4 linked regions of the Homo sapiens genome follow. The protein of the gene in region 3 purifies or fractionates together with the protein of the main gene of each other region. This does not show direct contact. Each region holds a gene or a part of one and is shown on either strand. Other genes may lie near its edges.

Region 1 (3,500 bases), on a different chromosome or scaffold from region 3:
GGGCTCCTCAAGGAAGTTTTTGGTCTGCTTGTTAAGGAGCCAGGGAAGTCTCAGAGATTGCCACCATAATTACAAGGGGCAGGAGGGAGTTGGGAGGATGTCAGTACTACAGTTTCCGTCTAGGCCCCCTTTCCTCCTTTCTAACAGCACAGCTTTGCATTTATCTGTGGACTCATTGGGGTTCCATAAAGCATTTTGATTACAGTGTTTCATGGCTAAGTTTGAAAACCACCTTTAGTAAATGTTGATGGAAAGAAAAGAAGAAGCCCTGACAGAAACTTACTCCCATCTGGAGAGGCCCGCCCCTTCCACGGGACTCCTTGAGGCTCAGGTTGGGGGGCAGCTGCAAGGCTCTTCTTGATGGGCTTCTTCCCCAGGGCTATGGTGACAAACACATCACACTCTATGACATCCGGGCAGAGCTGAGCTGTCGATATAAGGACCTCCGGACAGCCTACCGCTCTCCCAACACAGAGGAGATCTTCAATATGTTAACCAAAGAAACACCAGAGACCTTCTACATTGGTAAATTCTGGGGTCATTTTTTTATTGGGGGCAGGAGGTGTGTTTACTGTGTACATTCAAACCAAGCAGCAGTTCCAACAGATTGAGGCAGGTTTGTGTTGTACATGGGGAAGGCCAGGAGAGCATTTTAAAAGACTAAAGAGTCCTGGACTGGAAATCAAAACTGAATTTAAGGTCAAATGTGCTTCCAGTGTGCTATGGAATCTTCATGCAGTTAGTCTTCTTATAGGCTTTATTTTCCCCTATCATCAAATCAGGGGAACGGCCAGGCACAGTGGCTCATGCCTGTAATCCCAGCACTTTGGGAGGCCAGGGCAGGCAGACTGCTTGAGGCCAGGAGTTCGAGACCAGTCTGGGCAACATGGTGAAACCCCATCTCCACTAAAAATAAAAAATTAGCTGAGCGTGGTGGTGGGCACCTGTAATCCCAGCTACTCGGGAGGCTGAGGCAGGAGGATTCCTTGAACCTGGGAGGCAGAGGTTACAGTCAGCCAAGATAGCACCACTGCACTGCAGCCTGGGCAACAGAGCAAGACTTCATCTCAAAAATAAATAAATAAATAAAAATCGGGAAGAGTTCCCTCTTCAAGGATGGGAAGGAAGTCAGATATTCTGTCACTGAAAGGCTGGTGGAAAGAAGTGCTCTCCACATTCTCTGAGCCTGCTCCCCATCCTCTTTTCCTTCTTGCAGGAAAGCTCATCATCTGCAATGTCACTGGCATTGCCCACAGGCGTCCCCAGGGTGAGAGCTATGACCAGGCGATCCGCAATGATGAGACAGGGCTGTGGCAGTGCCCCTTCTGTCAGCAGGACAATTTCCCTGAACTAAGCGAGGTGTGTGCTGCAGCATTATCCTGCTCAGTGGATTTCCTTGGTTGAATGATCTCGGTGCCTAGAAGGGAATCAGAAATGAGGGTGTTCTAGATCATTCTCTCACCAAACAAGTACACAAAGAAGGAAGACGGACGGGAAACACACAGGTTTAGCATGAAGTCCCTTCTGAGAAGGCTGACATAGCTGGGCACGGTGGCTCACGCCTATAATCCTAGCACTTTGGGGGCCAAGGTGGGCGGTTCATCTGAGATCAGGGGTTCGAGACCAGCCTGGCCAAGATGGTGAACCCCCGTCTCTACTAAAAATACAAAAATTAGCCAGTTGTGGTGGCATACGCCTGTAATCCTAGCTACTCGAGAGGCTGAGGCAGGAGAATGACTTGAACCGAGGAGGCGGAGTTTGCAGTGAGCCGAGATCATACCACTGCACTGCAGCCTGGGTGACAGAATGAGACTTCATCTCAGAAAAGGAAAAAAAAAGGCTGACTTAGAAACTTCTTATGGTCGGCCGGGCGCAGTAGCTCACGCCTGTAATCCCAGCACTTTGGGAGGCCGAGGCGGGCGGATCATGAGGTCAGGAGATCGAGACCATCCTGGCTAACACGGTGAAACCCCGTCTCTACTAAAAATACAAAAAATTAGCCAGGCACGGTGGCGGCCACCTGTAGTCCCAGCCACTCAGGAGGCTGAGACAGGAGAATGGCGTGAACCCAGGAGATGGAGCTTGCAGTGAGCCAAGATAGCAGCATTGCACTCCAGCCTGGGCGAAAGAGCGAGACTCCGTCTCAAAAAAAAAAAAAAAGAAACTTCTTATGGTCGCTGGGTCAAAACAAAATGGCAGACAGGCATGGTGGCACGTACGTATAGTGCCAGCTACATCAGAGGCTAATTTGGGAGGATTTCTTGAGCCCAGGAGTTCGAGGCCAGCCTGGGCAACATAGCAAGACCCCATCTCCTTTTTTAAAAAAAGGGAGGGGCTGGCCGGGCGCGGTGGCTCACTCCTGTAATCCCAGCACTTTGGGAGGCTGAGGCGGGCGGATCATGAGGTCAGGAGATCGAGACCATCCTGGCTAACACGGTGAAACCCTGTCTCTACTAAACAATACAAAAAATTAGCCAGGCATGGTGGTGGGCGCCTGTAGTCCCAGCTACTCGGGAGGCTGAGGCAGGAGAATGGTGTGAACCCGGGAGGCGGAGCCTGCAGTGAGCCGAGATTGCACCACTGTACTCCAGCCTGGGCGACAGCGAGACTCTGTCTCAAAAAAAAAAAAAAAGTGGGGAGGGGCCAGGCCGGGCACAGTGGCTCATGCCTGTAATCCCAGTACTTTGGGAGGCTGAGGCAGTTGGATCACCTGAGGTCAGGAGTTCCAGACCAGCCTGACCAACATGATGAAACCCCATCTCTACTAAAAATATAAGGATTAGCAGGGTGTGGTGGTGAGACTCCTATCTCAAAAAAAAACACAAAAGGGAGGGGCCTCAGTTGCAGCTAAAGGGATCTAAGTTGGATAAACATAAAAGAGGATGGGGCACAGTCACACCAGTAATCCCAGCACTTTCAGGGGCCGAGGCAGGTGGAGTGCTTGCCCAGGAGTTCAAGACCAACCTGAGCAACATGGCAAAACCCTATCTCTACAAAATAAAATTAGCCAGGCTTAACCGGGTGCAGTGGCTCACGCCTATAATCCCAGCACTTTGGGAGGCCAAGGTAGGTGGATCACGAGGTCAGGAGATCGAGGCCATCCTGGCTAACACAGTGAAACCCCATCTCTACTAAAAATACAAAAAATTAGCTGGGCATGGTGGCGGGCGCTTGTAGTCCCAGCTACTCGGGAGGCAGAGGCAGGAGAATGGCGTGAACCCGGGAGGCAGAGCTTGCAGTGAGCCAAGATTGTGCCACTGCACTCCAGCCTGGGCAACAGAGCAAGACTCTGTCTCAAAAAAAAAAAAAAAAAAGATTACCCAGACTTGGGGGCGTGCGCTTATAGTCCCAGCTACTCGAGAGGCCAAGGTGGAAGGATCACTCGAGCCTGGGAGGTTGAGGCTGCAGTGAACCCTGATTGCACCACTACACTTCAGCCTAGGCAAAAGAGTGATACTGTCATAAGAAAAAGATGGCTAGGTGTGGTGGCTCACGCCTGT
Region 2 (3,500 bases), on a different chromosome or scaffold from region 3:
CTCAGACCCAGGAGTCTGGACCCCCAGCCTCTCCTCCCTCAGACCCAGGAGTCCAGGCCGCCAGCCCCTCCTCCCTCAGACCCAGGAGTCTGGACCCCCAGCCCCTCCTCCCTCAGACCCAGGAATCCGGGCCCCAGCCCCTCCTCCCTCAGACCCAGGAATCCGGGCCCCAGCACCTCCTCCCTCAGACCCAGGAGTCCAGGCCCAGCCCCTCCTCCCTCAGACCCAGGAGTCCAGGCCCCAGCCCCTCCTCCCTCAGACCCAGGAATCCAGGCCCCAGCACCTCCTCCCTCAGACCCAGGAGTCCAGGCCCAGCCCCTCCTCCTTCAGACCCAGGAGTCCAGGCTCCCAGCCCCTCCTTCCTCGGACCCAGTTGTCCACGCCCAGCTCCCTCCTCCCTTGGACCCAGGAGCTGGGTCTCCAGGCCCCTCCTCCCCTGACACCCTCAAGTCTCTACCCCCTGCCTCACCTGTGCACCCTGGCTCTGGGCCTCACGCACAAAGCGCTGGACCAGGTCACATGCGGCAGCCCCCCGGGCCCCCATGTCCACGGCCCCATCCAGCCCTCGGCCACTCCGAAGCCGCCCCATCCGCTCCTGCAGCCGTCTCATGGCTTCATCCCACACAGACTCCTGGATGAGGAGCCTGAGGCCACCCTGTGAGGAAAAGGGGCATCAGGAGATCACACCATTGCACTCTAGCAAGTTGGTGATCTGAAGAGTGAAGACAGAGGCTGGAAAACTAGGGACATGGACACTCAGATAAATCAACAGAGTCCTAAAGAACAGAGAGGCCGGATGCGGTGGCTCACACCTGCAGTCCCAGCACTTTGGGAGGCCGAGGTGGGCGGATCACCTGAGGTCAGGAGTTCGAGACCAGCCTGGCCAACATGGTGAAACCCCGTCTCTACTAAAAATACATAAATTAGCCAGGCATGGTGGTGCCCGCCTGTAATCCCAGCTACTCGGGAGGCTGAGGCAGCTACTCCCAGGCTGAACCTGGGAGGCAGAGGTTGCGGTGAGCCAAAATCGCGCCGCTGCACCCCAGCCTGGGCGACAAGAGTGAAACTCCGTCTCAAAATAAATAAAATAAAATAAAATAAAATGAACAGAGACTCGGGACCCCGAAGACTGGAGACAGACACCAACGGCCTCCAGGGTATGAGGAGACGGGAGCGCACGGGTCTCACCGGGCCGCGGTCGGACCAGGCGGCGTCCACGACACCCTCCACGGCCGAGTCTACGTCCGCCGTGTCCGTCAGCAGCAGCAGCGACTCCGTCCCCAGCGCCAGGCCCAGCTCCGCACACTCTCCCGCCAGGCTCCGTCGAAGGGCACGCCCTTCCTAGGGACCCCCCCCAGTTCAGCCGCAGGAGGAGCCTTGCGGCCCCCAGCCGCGTTCCGCCACGACCCCTGTCCCGAAGGTACCTCCGGGGCTCCGCAGAAGGCCACCTTCCGGATTCCAGGCTGGGAGGCCAGGATGGGCACCAGGGACGCAGGGCCACTGAGGACATTCAGGATTCCCGGGAAGGGGCCCAGCTCCCCCGCCAGCTGGGCCAGGAGGAGGGGCGCCGGGGAGGCCGGGGGCACGAGGGCCACCACGGTGCAGCCTGGGGAAGTGGGGCAGCTCAAAGGCCCAGGAGTCCAGGCCCAGCCCCTCCTCCCTCAGACCCAGGAATCTGGACCCCCAGCCCCTCCTCCCTCAGACCCAGGAGTCCAGACTCCAGCCCCTCCTCCCTCAGACTCAGGAGTCCAGGCCCCCAGCCCCTCCTCCCTCAGACCCCGGAGTCCAGGCCCAGCCCCTCCTCCCTCAGACCCAGGAGTCCAGACTCCAGCCCCTCCTCCCTCAGACCCAGGAGTCCAGACTCCAGCCCCTCCTCCCTCAGACCCAGGAGTCCAGGTCCCAGCCCCTCCTCCCTCAGACCCAGGAGTCCAGGTCCCAGCCCCTCCTCCCTCAGACCCAGGAGTCCAGACCCCAGCCCCTCCTCCCTCACACCCAGGAGTCCAGACCCCAGCCCCTCCTCCCTCAGACCCAGGAATCCAGACCCCAGCCCCTCCTCCCTCAGACCCAGGAGTCCAGACTCCAGCCCCTCCTCCCTCAGACTCAGGAGTCCAGACTCCAGCTCCTCCTCCCTCAGACTCAGGAGTCCAGACTCCAGCTCCTCCTCCCTCAGACCTAGGAGTTCAGACCCGCAGCCCCTCCTCCCACAGACTCCTTCCACAGAGTCCAGGCCTCCAGCCCCCTTGTCTCTCAGACTCTGGAGTTTGGGCCCCACGATCCCCTCCTTTCTCAGACCCAAGAGTCAGGACCCCCCAGGCCATCATTTACCCACAGCCAGGGCAGGGCAAATCCTCCACATCATCTCAAGGAAGGAGAATGTGGGTGGCAGGATGAGGCCAATTACTCCTGCAAGAAAAAAATGAGGCAAGAGGATCCCTTGAGGCTAGGTGTTTAAGTCCAGCCTGGGCCACATGGCAAGACCCCATGGCTACATTAGGAAAAAAAAAAAAAAATGGCCGGGTGTGGTGGCTCACGCCTGTAATCTCAGCACTTTGGGAGGTCGAGGTGGGCGGATCACCTGAGGTGGGAAGTTCGAGACCAGCCTGACCAACATGGAAAAACCCCATCTCCACTAAAAACACAAAATTAGCCAGGCGTGGTGGTGCATGCCTGTAGTCCCAGCTACTCGGGAGGCTGAGGCAGGAGAATCACTTGAACACGGGAGGCGGAGGTTCCAGTGAGCCGAGATCGCACCACTGCACTCCAGCCTGGGCAACAAAGAGCGAAACTCCATCTCAAAAAAAAAAAAAACAAAAACAAAAACTAGTCAGGTGTGGTGGTGCATGGTCGTAGTCCCAGTTACTTGGGAGGCTGAGGTGGGAGGATTTTGAGCCCAGGAGGTCGAGGTATCAGTGAGCTATAATTGCACCACTGTACTCCAGCCAGGGTGACAGAGAAAGACCCTGTCTGAAAAAGAAAAAAACAAAAACAAAAACAAAAGAAAAAGAATGAGGGGACCGGGCACGGTGGCTCATGCCTGTAATCCCAGCACTTTGGGATGCCAAGGCAGGTGAATCATCTGAGGTTAGGAGTTTGAGACCAGCCTGACCAACATGATGAGACCCCTCTTCTCTAATAAAAATATAACAATTAGCCAGGTGTGGTGGTGGGTGCCTGTAATTCCAGCTACTCAGGAGGCTGAGGCAGGAGAATCACTTGAACCCGGGAGGCGGAGGTTATAGTGAGCCAAGATTGCGCCACTGCACTCCGGCCTGGGCGACAAGAGCGAAACTCTGTCTAAAAGAAAAAGAATGAGGGGACTGGAGCTAGCACTGCTGAGTCATGTGGGAGGATAGGGCTAGGGACTCCAGGGTCTCACCCATGGGCTCCCAGCCTGCCAGTGCCTCCTCCTGGGTGGATGCCTGGATTGCATGGTAGTGGAGCAGCTGCTGGGCCAGCTGGACGTCCCCGTCTCGAACCTCTCGAACAGCCCGCCCAGTCAC
Region 3 (3,500 bases):
TGCAGAGATCACATGGTGAGAGAGGAAGTAAGAGAGAGAAGGGAGATGCCAGGATCTTTTTAACAATCAGCTTTCTCAGGAAAGAACAGAGTGAGAACTCAGTCACTCTCACTCTCCAGGGAGGACATTAATCTATTCATGAGGGGTCTGCCCCCATGACCCAAACACCCCCCATTAGGCCCTACCTCCAACACTGAGGATTAAATTTCAACATGAGATTTGGAGGGGTCAAACATACACACTATAGCACTAAACTCTAATTTGAAAGGGAATACACTTTCAAGACTAAAATACATTTTCTTTTTTTTTTTTTTTTTTTTTTTTTTGAGATGGAGTCTTGCTCTGTCGCCCAGGCTGGAGTGCAGTGGCGTGATCTCAGCTCACTGGAATCTCCACCTCCTGGGTTCACACCATTCTCCTGCTTCAGCCTCCGAACAGCTGGGACTACAGGCACCCGCCACCATGTCGGCTAATTTTTTGTATTTTTAGTAGAGATGGGGTTTCACCATGTTAGCCAGAATGGACTCGATCTCCTGACCTCGTGATCCACTCGCCTCAGCCTCCCACAGTGCTGGGATTACAGGCGTGAGCCACCGCGCCTGGCCTGACTAAAATACATTTTCAAGACTAAAAGCTAAGAACAAAGATTTAGAGATTTGATACAGCATTTGTAGAGAGGGCTTTTAGAGTGATCTCAACCTGATGTAACTGGCTGTGAAATGTAATTCTTCCAGGATGAAAGGTGAAGATCAGTATGCATACATGTATTTATCTACAGTATATACACATAATACATAGTAAAGAATTAAGCTTCAGTAACCTGTAAAATTTGCCTAAGTAGAATACTGATTTTGCAGAGATATGGGCTAAGTAAGATACTATCCTACACATAAACACACGCAGATGATAGAATGAAGTTAAAAACTGTTTCCATTCTTCTTCTACACCTTATATATTCATGTCTATAACAGCCCATAACACACTGTTTACATGTCTGACTTGCCCAACAGACTGTGAAGTCCTTAAGTCTAGCAGGGTGCTACATTCATTTATTATTCAGTAAATAAATGTTGAGCCAAACTGAAGTTACAGGAGAGAAGCAGAAATCATCATGGATTCACACAAGAGTGGGAGGGATTTTTTTTTTTTTTTTTTTGAGATGGAGTTTCACTCTTGTCGCCCAGGCTGGAGTACAATGGCGTGATCTCAGCTCACTGCAACCTCCACCTCCTGGGTTCAAGCAGTTCTCATGACTCAGCCTCCCAAGTACCTGGGATTAAAGGCACGTGCCACCACACCTGGCTAATTTTTGTATTTTTAGTAGAGACGGGGTTTCACCATATTGGCCAGGCTGGTCTTGAGCTCCTCCCCTCAGGTGATCCACCCACCTCAACCTCCCGAAGTGCTGGGATTACAGGTGTGAGCCACCACGACCAGGCCGGGAGGGCTTTCTAGAGAGTATAGGAGCCTCAAAGAAAGATAGGAGCTGGCTAGGAAGAAAATAGGGAAAAGAAAACTCCAAGTCAAGGAGGAGCATATCAAGAATAAAAGAAAGTCAGCCGGGCATGGTGGCTCACACCTGTAATCTCAGCACTTTGGGAGCCCAAGGTGGGTGGATCACAAGGTCAGGAGTTCAAGACCAGCCTGGCCAACATAGTGAAACCTCTTCTCTACTAAAAATACAAAAATTAGCCAGGTGTGGTGGCACGTGCCTGTAGTCCCAGCTATGATACTCAGGAGGCTGAAGCAGGAGAATACCTTGAACCTGGCAAGCAGAGGTTGCAGTGAGCCGAGACCACGCCATTGCACTCCAGCCTGGGTGACAGAGTGAGACTCCATCTCAAAAAAAAAGAATATCACGCCTGTAATCCCAGCACTTTGGGAGGCCGAGGCGGGTGGATCACGAGGTCAGGAGATCGAGACCATCCCGGCTAAAACGGTGAAACCCCGTCTCTACTAAAAATACAAAAAATTAGCCGGGCGTAGTGGCGGGCGCCTGTAGTCCCAGCTACTTGGGAGGCTGAGGCAGGAGAATGGCGTGAACCCGGGAGGCGGAACTTGCAGTGAGCCGAGATCCCGCCACTGCACTCCAGCCTGGGCGACAGAGCGAGACTCCGTCTCAAAAAAAAAAAAAAGAATAAAAGAAAGTCAAAAAGAACAAGAAGGAAGGATTCATCAATTAATACACCAGTTTGGTAATAGCAGTCATGGAAATGATAGTTGAGGGATAAATCCCAGAGAAACTCAAAGTCTAGGGTAGAAGTTTGGCCTAGAGAAGACCTAGTAAAGACGCTTTTCACAGGGAAGTATCATGAAGCACTATTTCAGAAAGATGCCACAAAAACAGAACTGAAGCAACTTCACTTTTTATCCCACTCCATGATTCCCTATTGTGTTTACCAACTGCCTTAAGAAGTCTGGCCCTCATGGTGCATCATTTCAACCAATCACTCAATGACTTCTCCACATTTGTGGATGTATATATATGTATTTTTTTAATATTTGAGACAGGGTCTCGCTCTGTCACCCAGGCTGGAGTGCAGTGGTATGATCATGGTTCACTGCAGCCTCTATCTCCCAGAATCAAGGGATTCTCCCGCCTCAGCTTCCTGAGTAGCCTGCATGCCACCATGCCCAGCTATTTTTTTTATTTTTATTTTTAGTAGAGACAGAGTCTCACTATGTTGCTCAGACTGGTCTCGAACTGCTGGGCTCAAGCAATCCTTCTGCCTCAGCCTCCCAAAGTGCTTGGATTACAGGGTGAGTTACCCTGCCCAGCTGACTTCTCTACATTTGTGAAGTCACTAAAATGACCTCAGCCTTGGTTTTCTCTATATAATAGCAGAACTAGGATCAATCCAACCACTTACCTTCTACATTCCTACATGCAGGCTGCTGAGTACTGCTCCAGAAAAGAACACAACTGTGCCGACTGTCACCAATCCAATTCATGTTTCTAAACTCAGCAGTTTTGTAATCCTTTCACCCCTCCCATTCCCCACAGCAGCTGGTTCTCATGCCATCTATCCTGCCATCAAAATCTCCTTCCTTCATAATAGCCAAAAACTAGAAATATGTGTCCATTAATTGATGAATGGATAAACAAAATGTAGTATATCCATACAACAGAGTATTACCGGGCCACAAAAAGGAACGAAGTACTGATAAAAACAACAAATAGAAACATTATACTAAGTTGCCTGTAATCCCAGCACTTTGGGAGGCCGAGGTGGGAGGATCACTTGAGGCCAAGAGTTCAAGACCAGCCTGGCCAACATGTCGAAACCTCGTTCGTCTCTACTGAAAATACAAAAATTACCCGGGTGTGGTGGCAGGCGCCTGTAATCCCAACTACTCAGGAGGCTGAGGCACAAAAATCACTTGAACCTGGGAGGTGAAGGCTGCAGTGAGGAGCCGAGATTGTGCCACTATACTTCAGCCTAGACGACACAGTGAGACTCTCAAAAAAAAAAGAAAGAAAGAAACATTATACTAAGTGA
Region 4 (3,500 bases), on a different chromosome or scaffold from region 3:
ATTAAATCAGGCAAATCAACATATCCATCACCTCACATGCTTAGCATTACTTTGTGGTTAGAACATTTAAAATCTACTTTTAGCAATTTTGAAATAGCTAATACATTATTAATTATAGTCACCATGCTATGCAATATGTCACCTAGAACTTATTCCTCCTGTCTAAGTGAACTTTATATCCTTTGACCAACATCTCCCCTATCCCCATACACCACCACAACTTCTGGTAACCACCATTCTACTCTTGGTTTCTACGAGTTCAATTTTTTAAGATTCCACATGAAAATGAGATTATGTGGTAACTGTCTTTCTGTGTCTGGCTTATTTCACTTAGTATAACATCCTCTAGATTCATCCATATTGTCACAAATGACAGAGTTTCCTTTTTTAAGGCTGAATAGTATTCCAATGTGTGTATTTACCACATTTCTTTTTCTTTTTTTTTTGAGATGGAGTTTCACTCTTGTTGCCCAGGCTGGAGTGCAATGGCATGATCTCAGCTCACTGCAACCTCTGCCTCCCAGGTTCAAGTGATTCTCCTGCCTCTGCCTCCCGAGTAGCTGGGATTACAGGCATGAACTACTACACCCAGCTAATTTTGTATTTTCAGCAGAGACGGGGTTTCTCCATGTTGGTCAGGCTGGTCTCGAACTCCCGACCTCAGGTGATCCGCCCGCCTCGGCCTCCCAAAGTGTTGGCACTACAGGTATGAGCCACTGCACCCGGCTACCACATTTTCTTTATCCATTCATCCATTGATGGGCAATTTTTAGGCTGTTTCTATATCTTGGCTATTGTGAAATAATCATGGGAGTGCAGCTATCTCTGACACACTGATTTCAATTCCTTTAGATATAAACCCAGAAGTGGGATTGCTGAATCATATGGTAATTCTATTTTTAGTTTTTTGAGGAACCTCCATGTTTTCAAAAATGGCTGTGCTAATTTACATTCCCACCAGTAGTGTACAAGGGTTCTTTCTCTTTTCTCTACATCTTGCAAACACTTTTGTCTTTTTTATAATAGCTATCTACTTACAACATGGACTATGACAGAAACTTCTGTTACATTAAAATACATTGGTCTATCCTGTGCACTGACTGGATCTTTTACTTATGAATATTTTAATATCAAGCATTGATTATTTGGAAACTACTGGTTGAGTTATGCAAATCTTCCAAATGTTGACATTTTCCACCACACATTATAAAAAATTTTTGTTATTCTCACCACTTATCTCATCAGAAAAGTCTTTAAGTATTAATATATTAGAAAGCTGCCGTGGCTGGACATTGTGGCTCATGCCTGTAATCCCAGCACTTTGGGAGGCTGAGGTGGGCGGGTTGCTTGAGCCCAGGAATTCAAGACCAGCCTGGGCAACATGGCAAAACCCTGCCTCTACTAAAAACACAAAAATTAGCCTGGCATGGTGGCACACACCTGTAGTACCAGCTACTCAGGAGGCTGAGGTGGAAGAATCACCTGAGCCCAAGAGGCAGAAGTTGCAGCGAGCCAGGATGATCACGCCACTGCACTCCAGCCTGGGTAACAGAGTAACACCTTATCAAAAAAAAAAAAAAGAAAAGAAAAGAAAAAAAGAAAAAGCTTCAACCACATAGTGCCAGATATATGTTTCTAAAAATTCTAATTTTCACTTGACATTTCATATTTTATCAATGGCAATAGATGGTGTCAGTTGTTTAACATGACAGGCTTAATTTGTTCGCTTTGGAAAAAATGTGCGCCAAATAACCAAAAACCAGTCTTGAGTAATCAATAACTAATAACCAATAACCAGTCTGATAATCACAGCATATCTGTAAATGGTCCATTCAAGCAAAAATAGTATTCCATAAAAAGCAATGAATTCAGCTGGCAACTTAAATAACTGCACAAGTGCTTTTCCTAAAGACAACTATCTTATTCAATATGCAGCAGTACTTTATATTTATTTTCCCTTTTATCATGAAGAACACAAAATATTACCCAAAGATGAAGATTTAACAAAATTAATAATTTTTACTGTTTCACCAAGGACTTTATAGTGAAACTGACTTTTTTTTTTTTTACACTGCAAGTATGTGGCAGTCAAGAACGCAATGGCTACTAACTAGCACCGTTTCATGCCACTAATGCTGATTCACACTACAGTGCAAGTAATTTAATTTTACCCATGGTGCTCTTGCACCATCAGCACAAATGTCAACACAGTGGAAGAGCCAAACAACATTTTAGTTTTTTGTTTTGTGTCATTGTGGGGCTACATATGTCAAGCAGTATGCTATAGGTACATTTGCTTTATATAAAAAAATTTTTTTTTTTTTTTTTTTTTTTGAGAAGGAGTCTCACTCTGTCAGCCAGGCTGGAGTGCAGTGGGGCAATCTCGGCTCACTGCAACCTCTGCCTCCCAGGTTCAAGCAATTCTCCTGCCTCAGCTTCCCGAGTAGCTGGGATTACAGGTGCACGCCACCACGCCTGGCTCATTTTTGTATTTTTAGTAGAGACAGGGTTTCATCATGTTGGTTGGCCAGGCTGCTCTCAAACTCCTGACCTCTGGTGATCTGCCTGCCTCGGCCTCCCGAAGTGCTGGGATTACAGGTGTGAGCCACTGCGCCTGGCTTAACATTTCAGTATTATAAAGTAGTTTTGACCTTACAGAGTCCATGAAAGCACCTCTGGGTCTGTGAACCACAATTTGAGGACTGTTGCACTAGAATCACATGGCCTGTTAAGATAAATGTACTGTGAGGCACAAATGCACTAAGCATGCCTCAAAGAACAGTAGACATAAATATCCTATCTCATTCTCACTCTGAAGAGAGGAGAAGTTGGAACTGCCCACATCAAATTTCCACCTTATGGCCAGGCGCAGTGGTTTATGCTTGTAATCCCAACATTTTGGGAGGCTAAGGTGGGCAGATCGCTTGAGTCCAGGAGTTTGAGATAGCCTGAGCAATATGGCAAAATTGCTTCTCTACAAAACATACAAAAATTAACCAGACATGGTGATGCACGCCTGCAGTCCCAGCTACGTGGGAGACTGAGGTGGGAGAATCACTTGAGCCCGGAAGGCAGAGGTTGCAGTTAGCCCAGATTGTGCCACTGCACTACAGCCTGGGCAACAGAGTGAGACCGTGTCTCAAAAAAATAAAAATAAAAAAATTGTCTTTTTTTTTTTAATTCCTTAATTCATTTATCTTATTGGTGGAGTAGAAATAATTCAATACCAACCTGGTGGTCCATATAACAAACAGCCTTTTGGAGGTATTATTCCTACACGCTGAAATAACTCTGGGTTTGTAAGAGGTAATTCTATCACCTAGAAAAGAAGTTAAATCTTTCTTAAAAAGTTAGTCAAGATTTTTAATGTACTTTCAAATACTCTAAGTCAAATATCACCTTAGTTAGGTGTACACATCATAATTCTTAATAGACCTAGACTTCCATGCTAGGTAAAACCATTTATATTAAGAGGTTTTGCTCCAGGTAGATTTAAGATC

Evidence for each region. The genes of interacting proteins can lie anywhere in the genome.
Region 1: the proteins of PAAF1 (region 3) and SUPT6H purify together in Homo sapiens (affinity purification with western blotting; one study listed by BioGRID). This does not show direct contact.
Region 2: the proteins of PAAF1 (region 3) and ALDH16A1 purify together in Homo sapiens (affinity purification with mass spectrometry; one large-scale study listed by BioGRID and IntAct). This does not show direct contact.
Region 4: the proteins of PAAF1 (region 3) and PSMC6 purify together in Homo sapiens (affinity purification with western blotting; 3 studies listed by BioGRID and IntAct, with this or other methods). This does not show direct contact.

Annotation. Positions count from the first base shown.
Region 1 is NC_000017.11:28,689,705-28,693,204, forward strand, and holds part of SUPT6H (transcription elongation factor SPT6), read left to right. Parts: intron 1-377; coding exon 378-525; intron 526-1,216; coding exon 1,217-1,359; intron 1,360-3,500.
Region 2 is NC_000019.10:49,459,725-49,463,224, reverse strand, and holds part of ALDH16A1 (aldehyde dehydrogenase family 16 member A1), read right to left. Parts: coding exon 3,377-3,500; intron 2,404-3,376; coding exon 2,326-2,403; intron 1,607-2,325; coding exon 1,425-1,606; intron 1,342-1,424; coding exon 1,189-1,341; intron 656-1,188; coding exon 470-655; intron 1-469.
Region 3 is NC_000011.10:73,883,499-73,886,998, reverse strand, and holds part of PAAF1 (proteasomal ATPase-associated factor 1), read right to left. Parts: intron 1-3,500. UniProt on the Homo sapiens protein: Inhibits proteasome 26S assembly and proteolytic activity by impairing the association of the 19S regulatory complex with the 20S core.
Region 4 is NC_000014.9:52,713,700-52,717,199, reverse strand, and holds part of PSMC6 (26S proteasome regulatory subunit 10B), read right to left. Parts: intron 3,320-3,500; coding exon 3,232-3,319; intron 1-3,231. UniProt on the Homo sapiens protein: Component of the 26S proteasome, a multiprotein complex involved in the ATP-dependent degradation of ubiquitinated proteins.